Linked DNA regions of Homo sapiens: all the other regions are linked to region 3. Evidence: fine-mapped expression QTL. A gene starts in region 3. Each other region holds a variant in brackets. All regions are shown on one strand. Distances are between the middles of the regions.

Region 1 (7,274 bases), 43 kb after region 3:
TTCTTATGAAAAATAAAACTGAGATTAGGATGGTTCCACTGACGACTTCTTATCACATCCTTTACTATATGATGAGGGCAGATGCCAACATGCAACTCAATACAAGGAAGTCTATAGGGGCAAAGCCATACCACCTAAGGATTCAGCCTTCTGGTCCAATCTGGCCAGAAATAAAATTTGAAATATTTAGGAGAATGGGTAGATCTCAAAGCCTTTAGACAACCCTTTTTTATTACTGGTTTTCCACCTGTGGCTGAGAGTCAAGTTGATCAGTAGAGATTAATAGTTGTTGTCTTTGCCTACAGTTTGGAATAGAATTTGATTATTCTTCATTGCCAGTACAGGGCAGTGACATGAGCTTTGACAAACAGTTCATGCTAGGAGTAGAGACTGTGTCCCAGGACTGAGGGATCTGCCTAAGATCAAGGGAAAAATCTGAAAGACTCGTCCTAACAAAGTGTAAAACTAAGGCTTTATAAGTTCAAGGGAACTGACTACTGATTAGCTGCCAGTGAAAACAAAAATCAACACTCTCAGGTAACAGAAATCAGAATTGCTACAATGCATCACCAACAATGTCCAGCTTACAATTTTTAAGGACGACTAAATAGGAGACTCCCAGTTTCTAGTCTGGCACATAAGGAGGTCGGCAGTCATCACTTCATTCTAACAAGTAAAAAGCTGAACAAACTAAAAAATCAACAACTCAGCCGGGTGTGGTGGCTCACGCCTGTAATCCCAGCAGTTTGGGAGGTTGAGGCAGGCGGATCATGAGGTCAGGAGTTTGAGACCAGTCTGGCCAACATGGTAAAACCCCGTCTCTACTAAAAATATAAAAAATTATCTGGGCATGGTGGTGGGCACCTGTAATCCCGGCTACCTGGGAGGCTGAGGCAGGAGAACCACGTGAACCTGGGAGCCGAGATCGTGCCACTGCACTCCAGCCCAGGCAACAATGTGAGACTCCATCTCAAAAAAAAAAAAAAAAAAAAAAAAAAAAAAAATTCAGCAACTCTTATTAGGTCTTTTGGAGAAGTGAAGTCACAGGGCAAACTACTGCCCCCAAAATTAGAGAGACAGACAAGCAAATAGAAACAATCACAACTTAACAGAGCAGAAACCCACAAGCAGAAACCTCTGCAAGAACCAGTGCCAGGAGTAGGGAAGCCCTGAACTGTAATTGACAAATTGCTGGAGGCTCAGTGTGGACAAGTCTGAGAGATGAAAAACTCCAGTGGGGCCCAGTTATCAAGCGCCACCCCCCACCGCGGCACCCAAAACACAACACACTTTTGTGAGTTTTACCTCCAGGAGCTCAACCAAGTTCTTACAGTAAATACTGGAGAAAAATCTCTTCATCCTTCCAAAAGGGGTAGGAGAAAAGTAATTTTTAAATATACCAAAACATTCTAGTTTTCTTAACAAGGCCTGCCCTCAGGAGAAACTAATTTACCAGAGCTTAAATTACTTAGGTTTTTCTCACAGCCTAACTGACCTAAGGGTAGGGGGATACCCAGCTCTAGCCACTCTAGCTGTTCCACCTAAGGGGAGGGAAGGGATAGACTAAGAAGCACTTGTGAAGTTCACAGTCCAAGGGCCCAGGCTCACCAAAACTACTAAGACTTAATAATAACCTACCCAAATGAGAAGGAACCAGAAAACCAACTCTGGTAATTAATATGACAAAACAAGGCTCTTTGACACTCCCCAAAAAATCACACTAGCTCACCAGCAATGGATCCAAACCAAGAAAAAAATCCCTGATTAACCTGAAAAAGAATTCAGGAGGTTAGTTATTAAGCTAATTAGGGAGGCACCAGAGAAAGGTGAAGCCCAATGCAAGGAAATCCAAAAATCAATACAAGAAGTGAAGGGAGAAATATTCAAGGAAATAGATAGAATAAAGAAAAAACAGTTAAAACATCAGGAAACATTGGACATACTTCTAGTAATGCAAAATGCTCTGGAAAGTCTCAGCAATAGAATTGAACAAGTAGAAGAAAGAAATTCAGAGCTCGAAGACAAGGTCTTTGACTTAACCCAATCCAACAAAGACAAAGGAAAAAGAATAAGAAAATATGAACAAAGCCTCCAAGAAGGCTGGGATTATGTTAAACGACCAAATCTAAGAATAATTGGTGTTCCTGAGGAAGAAGAGAAATCTAAAAGTTTGGAAAACATATTTGGGGGAATAATCAAGGAAAACTTCCCTGGCCTTGCTAGAAACCTAGACATCCAAATACAAGAAGCTCAAAGAACACCTGGGAAATTCATTGCAAAAACATCACCAGGTAACCTATAAAGAAAAACATGAGACAAAAATACCAGGTATCCTATAAAGGAAAACCTATCAGGATTAACAGCAGATACCCTACAAGCTAGAAAGGACTGGGGCCATATCTTCAGCCTCCTCCATCAAAACAATTATCAGCCAAGAATTCTGTATCCAGCAAAAATAAGCGTCATATATGAAAGAAGGATACAAACAAATGCTGAGAAAATTCACCACTACCAAGTCACCACTACAAGAACTGCTAAAAGGAGCTCTAAATCTTGAATCAAATCCTGGAAACACATCAAAATGGAACCTCTTTAAAGCATAAAGCTCACAGGACCTATAAAACAAAAATACAATTTGAAAAGCAAAAACAAAAAAACCAAGGCACATGGGCAACAAATAGCATGAGGAATGGAATGGTACTTCACATCTCAATATTAACACTGAATGTAAATGGTCTAAATGCTCCACTTAAAAAAATACAAAACAGCAGAATGGATAAGATCACCAACCAACCATCTGCTGCCTTCGGGAGACTCATCTAACATATAAGGACTCGCATACATTTAAAGTAAAGGGGTAGAAAAAGATATTTCATGCAAATGAACACCAAAAGTAAGCAGGGGTAGCTATCTTATATCAGACAAAACCAACTTTAAAGCAACGGCAGTTAAAAAAGACAGAGACATTATACAATGGTAAAAGGCCGTGTCCAACAGGAAAACATCACAATCCTAAACATATATGCTCCTAACACTGGAGCTCCCAAATTTATAAAATAATTACTAATAACGTAAGAAATGAGATAGACGGCAACACAATAATAGTGGGGGACTTCAA[T/A]ACTCCACTGACAGCACTAGACAGGTCATCAAGAAAGAAAGTCAACAAAGAAACAATGGATTTAAACTATACCTTGTAACAAATGGACTTAACAGATATATACAGAACATTCCAACCAACAACTGCAGAATACACATTCTATTCAGTAGTGCATGGAACTTTCTCCAAGACAGACCATACAATAGGCCACAAAATGAGCCTCAATAAATTTAAGAAAATTGAAATTATATCAAGCACTCTCTCAGACCACAGTGGAATAAAACTGGAAATCCATTCCAAAGGAACCTTCAGAACCATGCAAATACATGGAAATTATATAACCTGCTCCTAAATGATCATTGAGTCAAAAATGAAATCAAGATGGAAATTTAAAAGTTCTTCAAACTGAATAATAGTGACACAACCTATCAAAACCTCTGGGATACAGCAAAGGAGGGGCTAAGGGGAAAGTTCATAGCCTTAAATGCCTACATCAAAAAGACTGAAAGAGCACAAACTGACATTCTAAGGTCATACCTCAAGGAACTAGAGAAACAAGAACAAACAAAACCCAGCAGACAAAAGGAAATAACCAAGATCAGAGCAGAACTAAATGAAATTGAAACAAAAAAATAAAAAAGATAAATGAAACACAAAGCTGGTTCTTTGAAAATATGAATAAAATTGATATGCTGTTAGCAAGATTAACCAAGAAAAGAAGAGAGAAAATCCAAATAAACTCAATAAGAAACAAAACAGGAGATATTACAACAGACATCACAAAAATACAAAAGATCATTCAAGGCTACTATGAACACCTTTGCATTTAAACTAAAAAACCTAGAAGAGATGGATAAATTCCTGGAAAAATACAACCCTCCTAGCTTAAATCAGGAAGAATTAGATACCCTGAACAAACCAATAACAAGCAGCGAGATTAAAATGGTAATTTTTAAATTACCAACAACAACAACAACAAAAGTCTAGGACCAGATGGATCCACAGCAGAATTCCACCAGACATTCAAAGAAGAATTGGTACCAACCCTTTTGACACTATTCCACATGACAAAGAGGGAACCCTCCCTAATTCATTCTATGAAGCCAGAATCACCCTAATACTACAACCAGGAAAGGACATAACCAAAAAAGAAAACTACAGACTGATATCCCTCATGAACATAGATGCTAAAATCCTTAACAAAATACTAGCTAACTGAATCCAACAACATATCAAAAAGATAATTCACCATAATCAAGGGGGTTTCATACCAGGGATGCAAGGATAGTTTAACATATACCAATAAATGTGATATGTCAATAAATGTGATACACCACATAAACAGAATTAAAAACAAAAATCACATGGTCATCTCAATAGATGCAGTAAAAGCATTTGACAAAATCCAGCATCGCTTTATGATTAAAACTCAGCAAAATCGGCATACAAGGGACATACCTCAATGTAATAAAAGCCATCTATAAGAAACCCACAGCCAGGGGGAGGAGCCAAGATAGCCGAATAGGAACAGCTCCGGTCTACAGCTCCCAGCGTTGAGCGACGCAGAAGACGGGTGATTTCTGCATTTCCATCTGAGGTACCGGGTTCATCTCACTAGGGAGTGCCAGACAGTGGGCGCAGGTCAGTGGGTGCGCGCACCGTGCGCGAGCCGAAGCAGGACGAGGCATTGCCTCACTCGGGAAGCTCAAGGGGTCAGGGAGTTCCCTTTCCTAGTCAAAGAAAGGGGTGACAGACGGCACCTGGAAAATCGGGTCACTCCCACCCGAATACTGCGCTTTTCCGACAGGCTTAAAAAACGGCGCACCAGGAGATTACATCCCTTACCTGGCTCGGAGGGTCCTACGCCCACGGAGTCTCGCTGATTGCTAGCACAGCAGTCTGAGATCAAACTGCAAGGCGGCAGCGAGGCTGGGGGAGGGGCGCCTGCCATTGCCCAGGCTTGATTAGGTAACCAAAGCAGCCGGGAAGCTCGAACTGGGTGGAGCCCACCACAGCTCAAGGAGGCCTGCCTGCCTCTGTAGGCTCCACCTCTGGGGGCAGGGCACAGACAAACAAAAAGACAGCAGTAACCTCTGCAGACTTAAATGTCCCTGTCTGACAGCTTTGAAGAGAGCAGTGGTTCTCCCAGCACGCAGCTGGAGATCTGAGAACGGGCAGACTGCCTCCTCAAGTGGGTCCCTGACCCCCGAGCAGCCTAACTGGGAGGCACCCCCCAGCAGGGGCAGACTGACACCTCACAGGGCCCAGTACTCCAACAGACCTGCAGCTGAGGGTCCTGTCTGTTACAAGGAAAACTAACAAACAGAAAGGACATCCACACCAAAAACCCATCTGTACATCACCATCATCAAAGACCAAACGTAGATAAAACCACAAAGATGGGGAAAAAACAGAGCAGAAAAACTGGAAACTCTAAAAAGCAGAGCGCCTCTCCTCCTCCAAAGGAACGCAGTTCCTCACCAGCAACGGAACAAAGCTGGACAGAGAATAACTTTGACGAGCTGAGAGAAGAAGGCTTCAGACGATCAAATTACTCTGAGCTATGGGAGGACATTCAAACCAAAGGCAAAGAAGTTGAAAACTTTGAAAAAAATTTAGAAGAATGTATAACTAGAATAACCAATACAGAGAAGTGCTTAAAGGAGCTGATGGAGCTGAAAACCAAGGCTTGAGAACTACGTGAAGAATGCAGAAGCCTCAGGAGCCGGTGCGATCAACTGGAAGAAAGGGTATCAGCGATGGAAGATGAAATGAATGAAATGAAGCGAGAAGGGAAGTTTAGAGAAAAAAGAATAAAAAGAAATGAGCAAAGCCTCCAAGAAATATGGGACTATGTGAAAAAACCAAATCTACGTCTGATTGGTGTACCTGAAAGTGACGGGGAGAATGGAACCAAGTTGGAAAACACTCTGCAGGATATTATCCAGGAGAACTTCCCCAATCTAGCAAGGCAGGCCAACATTCAGATTCAGGAAATACAGAGAACGCCACAAAGATATTCCTCAAGAAGAGCAACTCCAAGACACATAATTGTCAGATTCACCAAAGTTGAAATGAAGGAAAAAATGTTAAGGGCAGCCAGAGAGAAAGGTCAGGTTACCCTCAAAGGGAAGCCCATCAGACTAACAGTGGATCTTTCGGCAGAAACTCTACAAGCCAGAAGAGAGTGGGGGCCAATATTCAACATTCTCAAAGAAAAGAATTTTCAACCCAGAATTTCATATCCAGCCAAACTAAGCTTCATAAGTGAAGGAGAAATAAAATACTTTACAGACAAGCAAATGCTGAGAGATTTTGTCACCACCAGGCCTGCCCTAAAAGAGCTCCTGAAGGAAGCACTAAACATGGAAAGGAACAACCGGTACCAGCCACTGCAAAATCATGCCAAAATGTAAAGGCCATCGAGACTAGGAAGAAACTGCATCAACTAACGAGCAAAATAACCAGCTAACATCATAATGACAGGATCAAATTCACATGTAACAATATTAACTTTAAATGTAAATGGACTAAATGCTCCAATTAAAAGACACAGACTGGCAAATTGGATAAAGAGTCAAGACCCATCAGTGTGCTGTATTCAGGAAACCTATCTCACCTGCAGAGACACACATAGGCTCAAAATAAAAGGATGGAGGAAGATCTACCAAGCAAATGGAAAACAAAAAAAGGCAGGGGTTGCAATCCTAGTCTCTGATAAAACAGACTTTAAACCAACAAAGATCAAAAGAGACAAGGCCATTACATAATGGTAAAGGGATCAATTCAACAAGAAGAGCTAACTATCCTAAATATATATGCACCCAATACAGGAGCACCCAGATTCATAAAGCAAGTCCTGAGTGACCTACAAAGAGACTTAGACTCCCACACATTAATAATGGGAGACTTTAACACCCCACTGTCAACATTAGACAGATCAACAAGACAGAAAGTCAACAAGGATACCCAGGAATTGAACTCAGCTCTGCACCAAGCGGACCTAACAGACATCTACAGAACTCTCCACCCCAAATCAACAGAATATACATTTTTTTCAGCACCACACCACACCTATTCCAAAATAGACCACATACTTGGAAGTAAAGCTCTCCTCAGCAAATGTAAAAGAACAGAAATTATAACAAACTATCTCTCAGACCACAGTGCAATCAAA
Region 2 (5,000 bases), 29 kb after region 3:
TTTTCTTTGTATACACCCGTGCTCTCTCAATCTGGAATGCAGGGTCTGGATCGTACACCTCTTTGTAAACCCCAGCCCGGAGCACAGGGCTGTGGGACAGACAGTACAAGGATGTCTCAGGATGCTTCGGATCACAGAACCCTAGCAGTGCACCTAGCATAGTCACTTTCAGATGAGAACATGAAGGCCCAGAGAGGTTTGTCCAAAGACCCCCTAGCCCATTGGTAGCATAGTAAAGAATACCTCCCAGAGCTCTGAGCTGCAGGGCGAGCTTCCCACCAGGACCTAATCCTGCAGACAAGCAGCCTCTCAGCAGTTGCCTGCTCCTGGGAACTCATATGGCAACCTTGGTTCTCAATGTGCCACCCTCTGTGTGGGGCAGAGCTGGGGGTTGTCTCTCACCAACAGAACAGTCACCCCCTTTGTCTGGCAGAGGCCTTGGGATGAAGTTCCATGACTGTAGGCGACATCCCAGGTCCCTTTGCATGATCTCCATCATTACACATGCTGGGTACCTGGGTGACTCCAGGGTTATCTACAATCAAACACCACCCAAAGTGTCTTGCCCGGAGGTTTGCTACCCACTCAGTCTGGCTCAGGAGGCCTTCACGTTGAGATCTGTCTGTTCTTCCATGAGCCCGGCACAGTCCCAAGCTTATTTAATGGTACCTGGATATCAAGTCCATCTCACTCTCTACCCTAACTCTCTTCTGGAAATCTAGGAATCAGACTAGTCATCAGATAAGCCTTCTTTAATAGGGGAAAGCAGTAGCATTGGGAACCTTTTAACAGCTTTACAATGGCTCTTCTGAAGAACAAACAAGCCCTTGATGCTCTTTAGTTATTGCCAGAATAATACGTCCTGGATTGTTCTCAGTGGGCAGAACATTATGCTAAGGCACAGTCTCTCCCTGCTGCGGGGAGTGTGGCTAATGACGCTTGGGTGTGGAGATTCCTGGGTGCGTGTGGGGCCTGCAGCCCAGTCCCATCGTTGCCTGTGCATTACTCCCTAGTCGACCAGAAGAGCCTTCGACCTGGAGTGGCTACATGGGAAAGATGTTTATGGCTGCTACCAACTACCTCCCTACCCAGGTGTCAGACATGATGCATCAGGACAGGGCTTTTGCCACTGCACGCTTGAACTTCTCCGGACAGAGGAACATCTGTACCCTCTCAACGTACGTACAATGACACCCACTCTGAACAAGACCACACTTTCGTCAATGTATTTTTCCAAAGCACAAAAATCCCCAAACCTGAAAAGAAAAAAAGAAAACTTGCCCCAGGCTGGGCACGGTGGCTTACATCTGTAATCCCGGAACCTTGGGAGGCCAAGGCAGGCAGATCATCTGAGGTCAGGAGTTTGAGACCAGCCTGGCCAACGTGGTGAAATCCCGTCTCTACTAAAAATACAAAAATTAGCCGGGTATGGTGGTGCGTGCCTGTAGTCCCAGCTACTTGGGAGGTTGGGGCAGGAGAATCGCTTGAACCCAGGAGGCGGAGGTTGCAGTGAGCCGAGATCATGCCACTGCACTCCAGCCTGGGCGACAGAGCAAGACTCCATCTCAAAAAAGAAAAAGAAAACTTGCCCCAAAGGAAGGGTGAGCGGAATCAAACCCCTGCTTTTCCTATCTGACTTCAATACGGATTCTCAGGGGGCAGCCAGAAGTTGGCATGGGAATTTTAGCCTTCTGGTTATAATGACACTGTCTTAAAAACAATTCTTATTTTTATGTAATTATGTAAAAAGCCTCCAGATCTGTTTTCTAGGTTCGGACTCCTATGGGGCTGACAGATGTTTTAAGAAGTTTAAAGGAGTTTATTCAAAAGTTGAACATTTTTAAAATTTCACAAAACTAACCAGCAAAGACAGTAAGCCAATCCTCCATTTACCCCCTTTCTGTCTTGGTTAAGGGCAGAGACACATGTCAGAGGGAGACTGCGTCCCATGTAGGGAGCTAATGTGTTCACTAGCTATTGCTTCTCGCAGGGTCGCAGCATCTACACTCACTTGCCTCATCCACACTGTCACGTTCAAAGACAAGAAATAATCCTGAAAGTAGATCCCAAGGCCAGAATGCAAAGGAATAGCCAGAAGCCCAGACCAGATCAGTGGGCTAAGGGTTTGTCAAAGGCAGAATCTGGTGACAGCTAGGGTGAGGGGGGCTTTGTCATTGGAAGCGAATCCATCGCCCATCTTCGTTGTCATCACGGTTTATGTTTTCCTTGGCCCTTAGGATCCAGAAGTTGCCACGGCTGCTAGTTGCGTCATCCAGTGGACACCTTTATATGTACAATTTGGATCCTCAGGATGGAGGAGAGTGTGTCTTAATCAAAACCCACAGGTGAAGAGACTGCTTTTCAAAAGACAGCCTTTCGAGAGCTGGTCGT[G/A]TAGAGTTGTCCCTTCGCCAAGAACGACAAGCTTCAGTGCCCTTGCATTGATTTGTTCTTCACTGGCAGTCTCAGTGGCAAACCTCTAGTGGGCAAGTGCTCTGCACCGGGCTCTGTGTCAGGTGCCCTCAGCATGTGGTAATCATCTGGAAAAGTGCCAGGATTAATAACACACAAGATGGTCTCCCCCTCAGCCTATGCTCCTAACACAGCCCTGAGCTCACAGTGGGTGTTCAAAAATATTCCCTGCCACCAGGTGTGGCGGCTCACACCTGTAATCCCGGCACTTTGGGAGGCCGAAGCGGGTGGATGGCTTGAGTCCAGGTGTTCAAGACCAGCCTGGGCAACATGGTGAAACCCCATCTATACCAAAAACAAATACAAAAATTAGCCGGTTGTGGTGGCACACACCTGTAGTCCCAGCTACTCAGGAGGCTGAGGTGGGAGAATCACCTGAGCCTGGAGAGGTTGAGGCAGTGAGCCATGATCACACCATTGCACTCCAGCCTGGACAACAGAGTGAGACCCTGTCTCAAAATAAAAAAAAAAAAAAACCTATTCCCTGCATGGAATTGAAAAGTGCTCTACCAGTCATGTTGACTCACGCCTGTAATCCCAATACTTTGGGAGGCCAAGGAGGGCGGATGGCTTGAGCTCAGGAGTTTGAGACCAGCCTGAGAAACATGGTGAAACCCCATCCTTACAAAAAGAAAAAATATAAAAATTAGCCAGGCATGGTGGTACATGCCTTGTAGTCCCAGCTACTTGGGAGGCAGAGGTGGGGGGATCACCTGAGCCCAGGAAGGTCAAGACTGCAGTAAGCTGTGGTCACACCACTGCACTGCAGCCTGGGCAACAGAGTGAGACCCTGTCTCAAAAAAGAAAAGAAAACAAAAGAAAAGCACTCATGCCTTCTGTGAACAGGCACAGACTGAGCTCTCCTGCTGTGGCCAGGGCACCAGAGCTGCCACCGCCCCCCACCGATGGCTGCTCTCCTTGCTAGCATGTCCTCACCTGTGTGTACTGGGAAGAGCAGAGGACTAATCTTTGTCTAGCCAATGTAAGAGAAAGAGGCCATTTTGACGGTGTGTGACTGCCCCTGGCAGTTGCAGGTCACTTCAGCTCATCCTGGCCCAGCAGCGTGTGGGTAGGTCTACAATTTAAACCCACAGAGTTGGCGGGCGGATCACCTGAGGTCAGGAGTTCGAGACCAGCCTGGCCAACATGGTGAAACCCAGTCTCTACTAAAAATACAAAAATTAGCCAGGCGCTGTGGTGGGTGCCTGTAGTCGCAGCTACTCGGGAGGCTGAGGCAGGAGAATCGCTTGAACCCAGGAGGCGGAGGTTGCAGTGAGCCGAGATTGCGCCACTGCACTCCAGCCTGGGCAATAGAGCAAGACCCTGCCTCAAAAATAAATAAATAACCCACAGAGCTGAGCACAGGCTTCTTCATGCTTTTCCTTTGGAAGGTGTCCTAGATATATGATGATTTCTTTTTTCTTTCACCTCCTCTTGATTGTCACAAGTAGCTTGCTTGGCTCAGGAACAACAGAAGAGAATAAAGAAAATGACCTCAGACCTTCCTTACCTCAGTCTTATGCAGCGACCGTAGCCAGACCAAGTGCATCTTCAGCCTCCACGGTGCCAGGTGGGTGGACACGGGGCCAACAGGGGAGCATCTCCAACAGTGACCTCCCTCCCCTTCTCCCTGCACGCTCCCTCCCCTTCCCCCTTCACTGTTACCTGGGGGTGGAGTGCCCTCCCTCCCCTTCCCCCTTCACTGTTACCTGGGGGTGGAGTGCTCTCCTTGAATTTTTTATTTTCTCACAGGTGAGGCCATGGTAATAGCCTTTAAACCTGGGACCCTCAACCTGGCAAGGCATCACACGATACGGTCTTTTTCCTAACAAGTGGTGTTAACCCTTTGCCTCTTCAAAAATTCCAATGAGGCCAGGCACATTGGCTCACACCTGTAATCCCAGCACTTTGGGAGGCTGAGGCCAGCGGATCACTGGAGGCCAGGGGTTTGAGACCAGCCTAGCCAACATGGTGAAACCCCATCTCTACTTAAAAAATAGAAAAATTAGCTGGGCATGTTGGCACACACTTGCAATCCCAGCTACTCCGGAGGCTGAGGCAGGAGAATTGCTTGAACCAGAGAGGCGGAGATTGCAGTGAGCTGAGATCATACCACTGCACTCCAGCCTGGGTGAAAGAGTGAGACTCTGTTTCAAAAAATAAAAACTAAACTAAAATTTCCAAAGAGCCTGTAGTCCTAGCCACTCAGGAAGTTAAATTGAGGCAGAAGGATCCCTTAGGCTCAGGAGTTCGAGACCAGCCTGGGCAACATACTGAGACCCTACCTCAACAAAGAAAAATTCAAAGAGGTAGGATGCCTCAGGCATCTGAAGTGGAAAGGCAGGTCAGGCTTAAAGATGGCAGATGGTGAGGATTATGACTTGTCCTAGGCACAGTACCTCCAGGGGGAAGACAGACAGCCCCTTTGCTTCCTTTGCCCTTTATTTGAGCCCCCGCTCCCCACCCGCCAGGTCATGGCATAAAAGCAGATCCCCAGTGCTTGTTTCATGTCTCTTTCTTGGTTTCCAGGT
Region 3 (7,147 bases):
CAACTCGTTCTCAGTTCATGTTCTGAGTGTTGCCCCATAGCAGAAAAGAGAAAGGAGATTATTTCCTGTAACTTGATTTTATAAAAATAGAATGGACTTTATAAAAAGAAGAATAGGACAGGAGTGGTGTTTGTTCACCTAGTAGTTACTTTAATTGTAGATGGTTGGGTGCCATGAATGACCATATGGGGTGACAGGAGTGTTGCATCAGACAGGATGTCTCATTTCCACCTTCCCCTGTGAATGCCCTGTGCATGCCCTAATCAGCATTTTAAAATTACAACCTGATTGTTATACAAATAAGAAGTCTCTCCATTAGATGAACTGTGGCCTGCAATTTTGTATTACCAAACATGTTTTTAATTCCCAGAGCCCAGCTTTATTTTCCCAGATTTTGCTGACTGGTAAGTAACTTACTAGTTACTTACGAGTAAGTTTTCCTAGAAATAATGGAGTTTTTTGTTTGTTTGTTTGTTTTGTTTTTCAGGGAAAAGATAGACATTTAGGAATTTCAGTTGAAAGAAAGAGAAAGGCCAAAATCTTATTCCCACTGGAACAAAGCATTGTCCCCTGCCCCACCTACCCCATTATCTTTTGCTGATGTTATTTAGTAGTGAAATTGCTGTTGCAAGAACTTGTAAGACTTAGGTTGCCCATAAGCCCAACATTCAAATCAAGAGTGTCCTCTCCCACAGAACCCAGAACTAGAATGTTAAAAAAGAAAAACCAGCCTGACATTAAATGGATTCAGCACCTCTTAAGTTATTTATAACCTTGCCCTTGGCTTTTTATATGAATGGACTTCTGGGAAATTTTTTGAGGGTGGAGCTCTTCAAAGTGGCTGCTTACACCTCTAACAGAAATCACAAACCAGCCCTCCACAAACCACATCCAGCTAGCTGATGTATTTAGTTTAGCTTATGAGGTACTTTTTGAAAATAAGAATTAGTTTTCATCATTTTTTAAATTTACCTACAAATACAGGTTTTTAATAAAATAGGCACAGATTTATATAAAAATACAGACTTACATATTGTCTTGGGAAAAATGAAATCAGATGAGGCAGCCCTGAGATGTTATTTCCACATGGCTGGTGCCATAATGGACCATTAGCCTGGAAAGAAACATATAAGGGGGACCATTCACAGGAAAGGCTGAGGCTGGGAAGGTGACCATTTTTCTCCCGTGGCCATAGCTCTAGATCCAAACCTTGATTCCAGTAAGCATGCAGTTCTGCTGCTGATTTAAAGTGTCTGAAATGAAATACAACTTCCTGAATACCTGACTGAAGATCTAGTTTCTAAAAGCAACCCAATGGGCTTCCCCTTCCCAACCATGAAATCAGCTTTGACTCTTCCCTCTTCTTCCCTGCCCCTCCCCCTTCCCCATCAGTTGCCATGCCTGTCATTTAGTCCCTCAAGACTCTACTGAGAATAAAGTAGCCACCAGCTACATGAACACTTAAAATGTGGCTCATGTGAACTGAGATATGGTGTAAGTGAAAAATACACACCGGATATTCAATATTTAGTTCTAAAAAAAAATTAAAATCTGAGGCCAGGCGTGGTGGCTCACGCCTGTAATCCCAGCACTTTGGGAGGCTGAGGCAGGTGGATCATGAGGTCAGGAGTGTGAGACCAGCCTGACCAACATGGTGAAATCCCGTCTGTATTAAAAATACAAAAATTAGCTGGGCATGGTGGCGGGGGCCTGAAGTCCCAGCTGCTTGGGAGGCTGAGGCAGGAGAATCGCTTGAACCCGGGATGGAGAGGTTGCAGTGAGCCTGGTGACAGAGCAAGACTCTGTCTCAAAAAAAAAAAAAATTAAAACCTGAATTAACTGATTAGTAACTTTATATTGATTATCTTTATATTGAAATGATATTTTTGACACATTGGATTAAATAAATGATATTATTCCAATTAATTTGCCTATTTCTACCTTTTTAAATGTATCTTCTAGAAAACTGAAATTTACAATGTGGAGTTCACATTTGGGGCTCATTTTATCTACTGGACAGCAATGCCTGAAAACAACTCTATGATTTGGTCTAATTTTCTGGCCTTGTTTTCATCACTTTAGCCTAGTCTCTCCTGTCCCTTTACTTCCAGAATTTCACATTAGTCCCCTAAAGACTTCTAGATCTTTTCCCACTTCTAATTTGTTCTGCACACCCTGGCCAAGTTTATCTGACAAAGACACTGCTTTTTTATCATGAAACACTCCTGCTCAAAAACTAACACCAGCTCCCAGGTCTATCCCATAAAGTCCAAACTCTTAATAACAAACTGATAATAACAGCTTACACTTTAAAAACTTTATGGTACACTTCATGTAATTCTCCAAACAACGTAGCACCTAGCATGCCAGATTCTAGGTTTTCTAACCAGGACAGAAATGACTGCAGCATTTGACAGAGCTGGAAGGTGGGGGGAAGCACCTTTGATCTGAAAGGTTACAAAAATGGCACAAAGTATCTAAACAGCAGTTCCATTCACTTCTGATAGTTTATACAACACCTCACAATCAGCCAAAGAGCAATAACATCTGTGAATCTATGAGCTGAACTATTTTTTACATCAGTGGAGAGAAAAAAATAATAAAGTTGAGAAAAGAAACTGTTACATTTGCATCTCAGAAAACACAAACCGGAAATCCAACCAGAAAGGTTTAGGTGAAATAGTGCCCTTTGTTCATCTATTGTAGGTCCAAGGTTAAATATATATATATATACACATACATAAAAGTAGCTTTGTCATAAACTGGGTATTAAAAGTGGGAAATGGGGAAAACCGCAATTACTTTTGCACCAACCTAATAAATTTGAATTATGCTGATTTGAGAGACTGTCATATAACAATAACTAAAATATCATCTCAAAATTTGAAAAAATGAATTAAAAATCCATCAGCAGTTATACAATCCAAAGCTGGCAGAGCTCCTGCTTCATAAACCGTATTGACAGTAATTCCGCATGGGAACATGTACAGTACTCAGCTTTTAAAAAGAGATTCTTTGTTAAGGTTTATCTCGAATTACGTGAGTTTTGAATTGTGCTATATCTTCAAGACGTTACCCCTTTCATAAACTACACTGCCCTACACACACTTTCATTTTTTTCAGCTGCGGATCGGATAGGTCTTGTTTAGATACTTTGTGCCATTTTTGTAACTTTTCAGATCAAAGGTGCTTCCCCCCACCTTCCAGCTCCGTCAAATGCTGCAGTCATTTCTGTCCTGGTTAGAAAACCTAGAATCTCGCATGCTAGGTGCTACGTTGTTTTTGCAAATTACTGTTTAGCAGTTATTTAGTGCACAGGTCTTGAAAGCAGACATGCAGACATTCTACCATTTACTGTTACTTTAGACAAATTGTTTAGCTTTGGAGCTTCAGTTGCCTCTTCTGTATATTGAGCACAATCGTATTTTCCACACAAGTTTTATAAGAATTCAAGATGACATACATAGTACGGCGCGCTTGGCAAGTAGTGAGGGTTCTCAACCGCTCGGCAATGGATAAGATAACTTGCTATCTCTCTGGCTGAGGCAGCCCCATTTCAGGAGCTTCTCTCAATGCGGCTTGAGGACTCGACAAAAGGGTGGGGCTTTGGAGTCTAACGCTCTCTGCTAAACTCTGTAAGTTTAATAGGCAGAGTTACACATGGCAAGGGGTCTGGGCGGGGTGGGAACTAGCGCGTCCTCCTGTCACCCTTGCGGCGGCCCCGACGCAGTTGCCGGACTGAAACCAGCAGATCTGGCCCCAGCCGCATTCCTTCTTCCCTCTCCCTCCCAGCTGGGCGGCTCCGGCAATGAAAACACCGCCACGTGGGCCTGCTGCCTTTGCGTCACGCGCCTTTGTCCAATGGAGAGCCGCGTTACGAAGCCAGGGGCGGGTCGCCAGCCGGGCGGGTCCGCCCACAGCTGCCACGGATTGGCCAAGGGGGGCGGTGCCCGCCAGCCGTGGCTTGGGCTCGTGGCCAATGGTGGCCGGAGGCAGGGGCCCCGCCCTATCAGGTGCTCTGGTCCTCGGGACCAGCTGGAGGGGCGAGAAGGGGCGGGGCGAAGCCGGGGACGCGGCGGGGACGGGGCGGGGTAGGGGCGGGGTGGGGACGGGGCGGGGTAGGGGCGGGGTGGGGACGGGGCGGGGTAGGGGCGGGGCAGGACCGGCGACCCGGCCCGTGGAGCCGGCGCGGGCGGGCTGCTGAGGTGGCTGTCGCCGGCTCCGAGCTGCGGCTTCCCGGGCCGAGCCCCCGATGGAGGCCGAGGCCGCGGACGCTCCCCCGGGCGGGGTTGAGTCGGCGCTCAGCTGCTTCTCTTTCAACCAGGACTGCACGTAAGCTGCGACTCGGCCCCTGCCAGGGAGGTGGGGGACAGAGTGTCAGGACCCAGGGGTGTCGTCCTGAGAGCAGCTTGTGGCTTCCGCCTCGAGGCGGCCTCGGCGGGAGGGCCGGTGTCTGCTTCGGACGCATTGGGATCTTGTTATCCCCGTACCCCTTCAGTGGGGTTTGCCGCACCCCCCACCCCACCCCACTCCCAGTGTCCTCCCAGAGCGACAAGGTTGGGCCAAGGGTGAAAGCAGGGAGTTCGCAAAGGGAGTGGTGGGGCTGCGGGGGCCACGGAATATGGGGGGAGCAGGGCGGTGGGAAAGCCAGTGACCAAAGTGGGTGTCTGGGGAAGAGAGACAGTGGCCAAAAGAAAGAGATGAGAAAGGAGAGGAAGTTGCAAGTTGACCCAGGACTCTGTAGTTGGGGCCCAGGAAGATGAGAGTACAGGAAAAACTTTCCCATTTGTCCTTGAGCATCTCAACGTGGCATCTGGGCAGGGCCTCGGACAAAGAGGCAGCCTATCCCTGCGGCCAGGCCAGCCCCTGTCCCATCCCCGACGCAGGGCATCGTGCCTGCCCGCTCTGGATGGAAGAAACCTTTGGATTTCTTTGGCTGTTTTCACATCGCCCACCCAGCCAGGCAGGATCTCCTTCTCGGAGTCCAAGACTCTTTTCCCGGGCGCAGACTGCTTTCTCTCCAGGAAACAGGAGCTCCACCCTGTTGTTTTTGAGTGGATTTTTAATGTTTTACTTCGATGTTCACATTTGGGCTTTGAGAGGGAGCTGGGCTGAAGTGTGTTTCAGGCATCTGCAGGATTCTGTGACTTACAGGCAAACGCCTGTTTCTTTCCCTATTTTCATGGAAGCGAGCCCTGGGGACCATATGGAATCATCTTTTTGGAATGTGCACCCTGAGCATCAGGCGGGGATGACCGATTCCCAGTTTCCCACTTCCTGCTGTACCAGTTTCTGTGCCTTGGCTGCTGGTGACTGAGCTACGCTAATATTGATCCTTCAGTGGTGTAATTAAGGCCATTATGTACCATTAGCCACCCTGGCTTCCATTCCCTTTATGTTTCTGTTTAAAAACACCCGGTGCTGAACAATATGCCTTTGTTTGAAAAACCCATATGTGTAATCATGTAATCGAGTAGCTCTACAGCTTGGTTATTTGAGTGACTTTCAAGTTTTTCTTGACCACAATCCACAATACGAAATATGTATTGCAACATCACCCAATACCCATAACACATACACTATTCACAAAATATCATGTGCAATTTTCTGTGTCCTTTTTTTCTAAGCTGCTTGTGACTCACTGAATTGCGTTTTAGGATCCACTCATGAGTTGAGACCTGCAGTTTATAAAAATGCTGGTATAGATAAAATCCTGATGTTCTGTAAGAAACATTTTGCAAGAGGGCATGGCTGTTGAAATGCCTGGGTGATGTTTTCCTTCCCAATTGAACACAAGTTAAGAAAGGGGGTTAGTTTGCTTGTAAGTAGTAAATGTTCTAAATTCTGCTTTGTAACATCATTAGATTTGACAAAAAAGGGTGTTAATTTATACTCTAGCCATTAAATAACGCAAAGTCCCAGCTTTCTACAGAAATTGAATAAGAATGTTATTTTCAAAACGGTAGGGTGCTTTGAAAGTTAATTTCCTTACTCCCTACTGTTAGTTTTATTTTCTTGGATGGAAGCTCTGCTGGGCAGCTTTGCCTTGCCTATAAATAAAAGTTCTTGTCACAGTCAGTTGCTTTGAGCCACAGAGGGTATGACATTGGATTTTAAAATAAGTCAAGCCCCTTACTGAATACATTTAGGTGTATTGCCATGTCTTTTTCTATAAATGTAGGCTGAATTTGGGATCCAGTATTTCCAAAGAAGGTAGGTGAAAACAGCAAACCCTTACCAGTCCCCTACGCTCATACTTCGTGATTGGTACTTGTGCTATACACTTTGGGTACTTTTTTTTTTTTTTTTTTTGAGACAGTCTTGCTCTGTCACCCAGGCTGGAGTGCAGTGGTGTGGTCTTGGCTCAGTGCAGCCTCTGCCTCCCAGGGTTCAAGCGATTCTCCTGTCTCAGCCTCTCAAGTAGCTAGGATTACAAACGTGTACCACCACACTCAGCTAATTTTTTGTATTTTTAGTAGAGACGGGGTTTTGCCACATTGCCCAGCTTGGTCTTGAACTCCTGACCTCAAGTGATCCACCCACCTCAGCCTCCCAAAATGCTGGGATTACAGATGTGACACACTATGCCCAGCCTACTTTGGGTACATTTTAAATTTGATTAATGATAAATATTTGTCCCAAGCTCTGTTTCCATGAGTGGTGATTAGAATTTTGTTTCTACAGAAAGACTTTATGGATGAAATAAGGTCTAAGTCTAAATTCCTTGATTCAGAGTCTTTTGTGGCCATTGATCAATCACGTAAAACATCACATAAAACATCACTCTGTGATTTTCTCATATGTAGAATTCTTCTGGTCCAGGAGCAGGGCTTATGTTTGAAAATTACTTTAAATTGCTGTCACTTTGCATTAATGTTATAAGACTCTAGTTACAGTATTTCTTTCCTTACTTGCAAACTTTACAAACCTCATTTCGCAGCCAAACACATCTATATTTATGTGAAAAAGTTTATGTGAAGAAAGTTTAAAAACAATAACACTACAAAATACATTTTGAAGTTTTAAGATGCTCTGGGCTTACTTTTCCAGTTGCTGTTTGTCATCATGAATACCTCAGTCTAGGTACTAAATGCCAGTTCTAAGTGCACAGCTGCAAATGTCTAACCCACCAGTTTAGCTACTTAGC

What was found. PIP is the estimated chance that this variant, and not a neighbour inherited with it, causes the effect. A credible set is the group of variants that fine-mapping cannot tell apart.
Region 1: its variant is the best candidate, but not a certain one, in a credible set for the expression of WIPI1 in whole blood (TOPMed, PIP 0.74).
Region 2: its variant is the best candidate, but not a certain one, in a credible set for the expression of WIPI1 in thyroid (GTEx, PIP 0.89).

The regions. Positions count from the first base shown.
Region 1 is chr17:68,411,464-68,418,737 of GRCh38, reverse strand. All of the region lies in intron 11 of ARSG (arylsulfatase G), which reads right to left. It also overlaps a transcript of PRKAR1A not described here. Among named protein-coding and RNA genes, the nearest start is that of MIR635, 9.4 kb to the left of the region's middle. RefSeq lists enhancers at 4,757-4,806, 4,302-4,958, 4,959-5,617. The variant T/A (reference allele first, on the strand shown) is at 3,119.
Region 2 is chr17:68,426,174-68,431,173 of GRCh38, reverse strand. WIPI1 (WD repeat domain, phosphoinositide interacting 1) reads left to right here. Exons shown (of 13, transcript NM_017983.7): 9 at 1,014-1,178; 10 at 2,238-2,345; 11 at 3,921-4,039; 12 at 4,999-5,000. It also overlaps a transcript of ARSG not described here and a transcript of PRKAR1A not described here. Among named protein-coding and RNA genes, the nearest start is that of MIR635, 4.1 kb to the right of the region's middle. The variant G/A (reference allele first, on the strand shown) is at 2,392.
Region 3 is chr17:68,454,527-68,461,673 of GRCh38, reverse strand. WIPI1 (WD repeat domain, phosphoinositide interacting 1) reads left to right here and starts at 4,178. Exons shown (of 13, transcript NM_017983.7): 1 at 4,178-4,332. The coding sequence starts at 4,253. It also overlaps a transcript of PRKAR1A not described here. RefSeq lists silencers at 3,736-4,022, 3,759-4,438.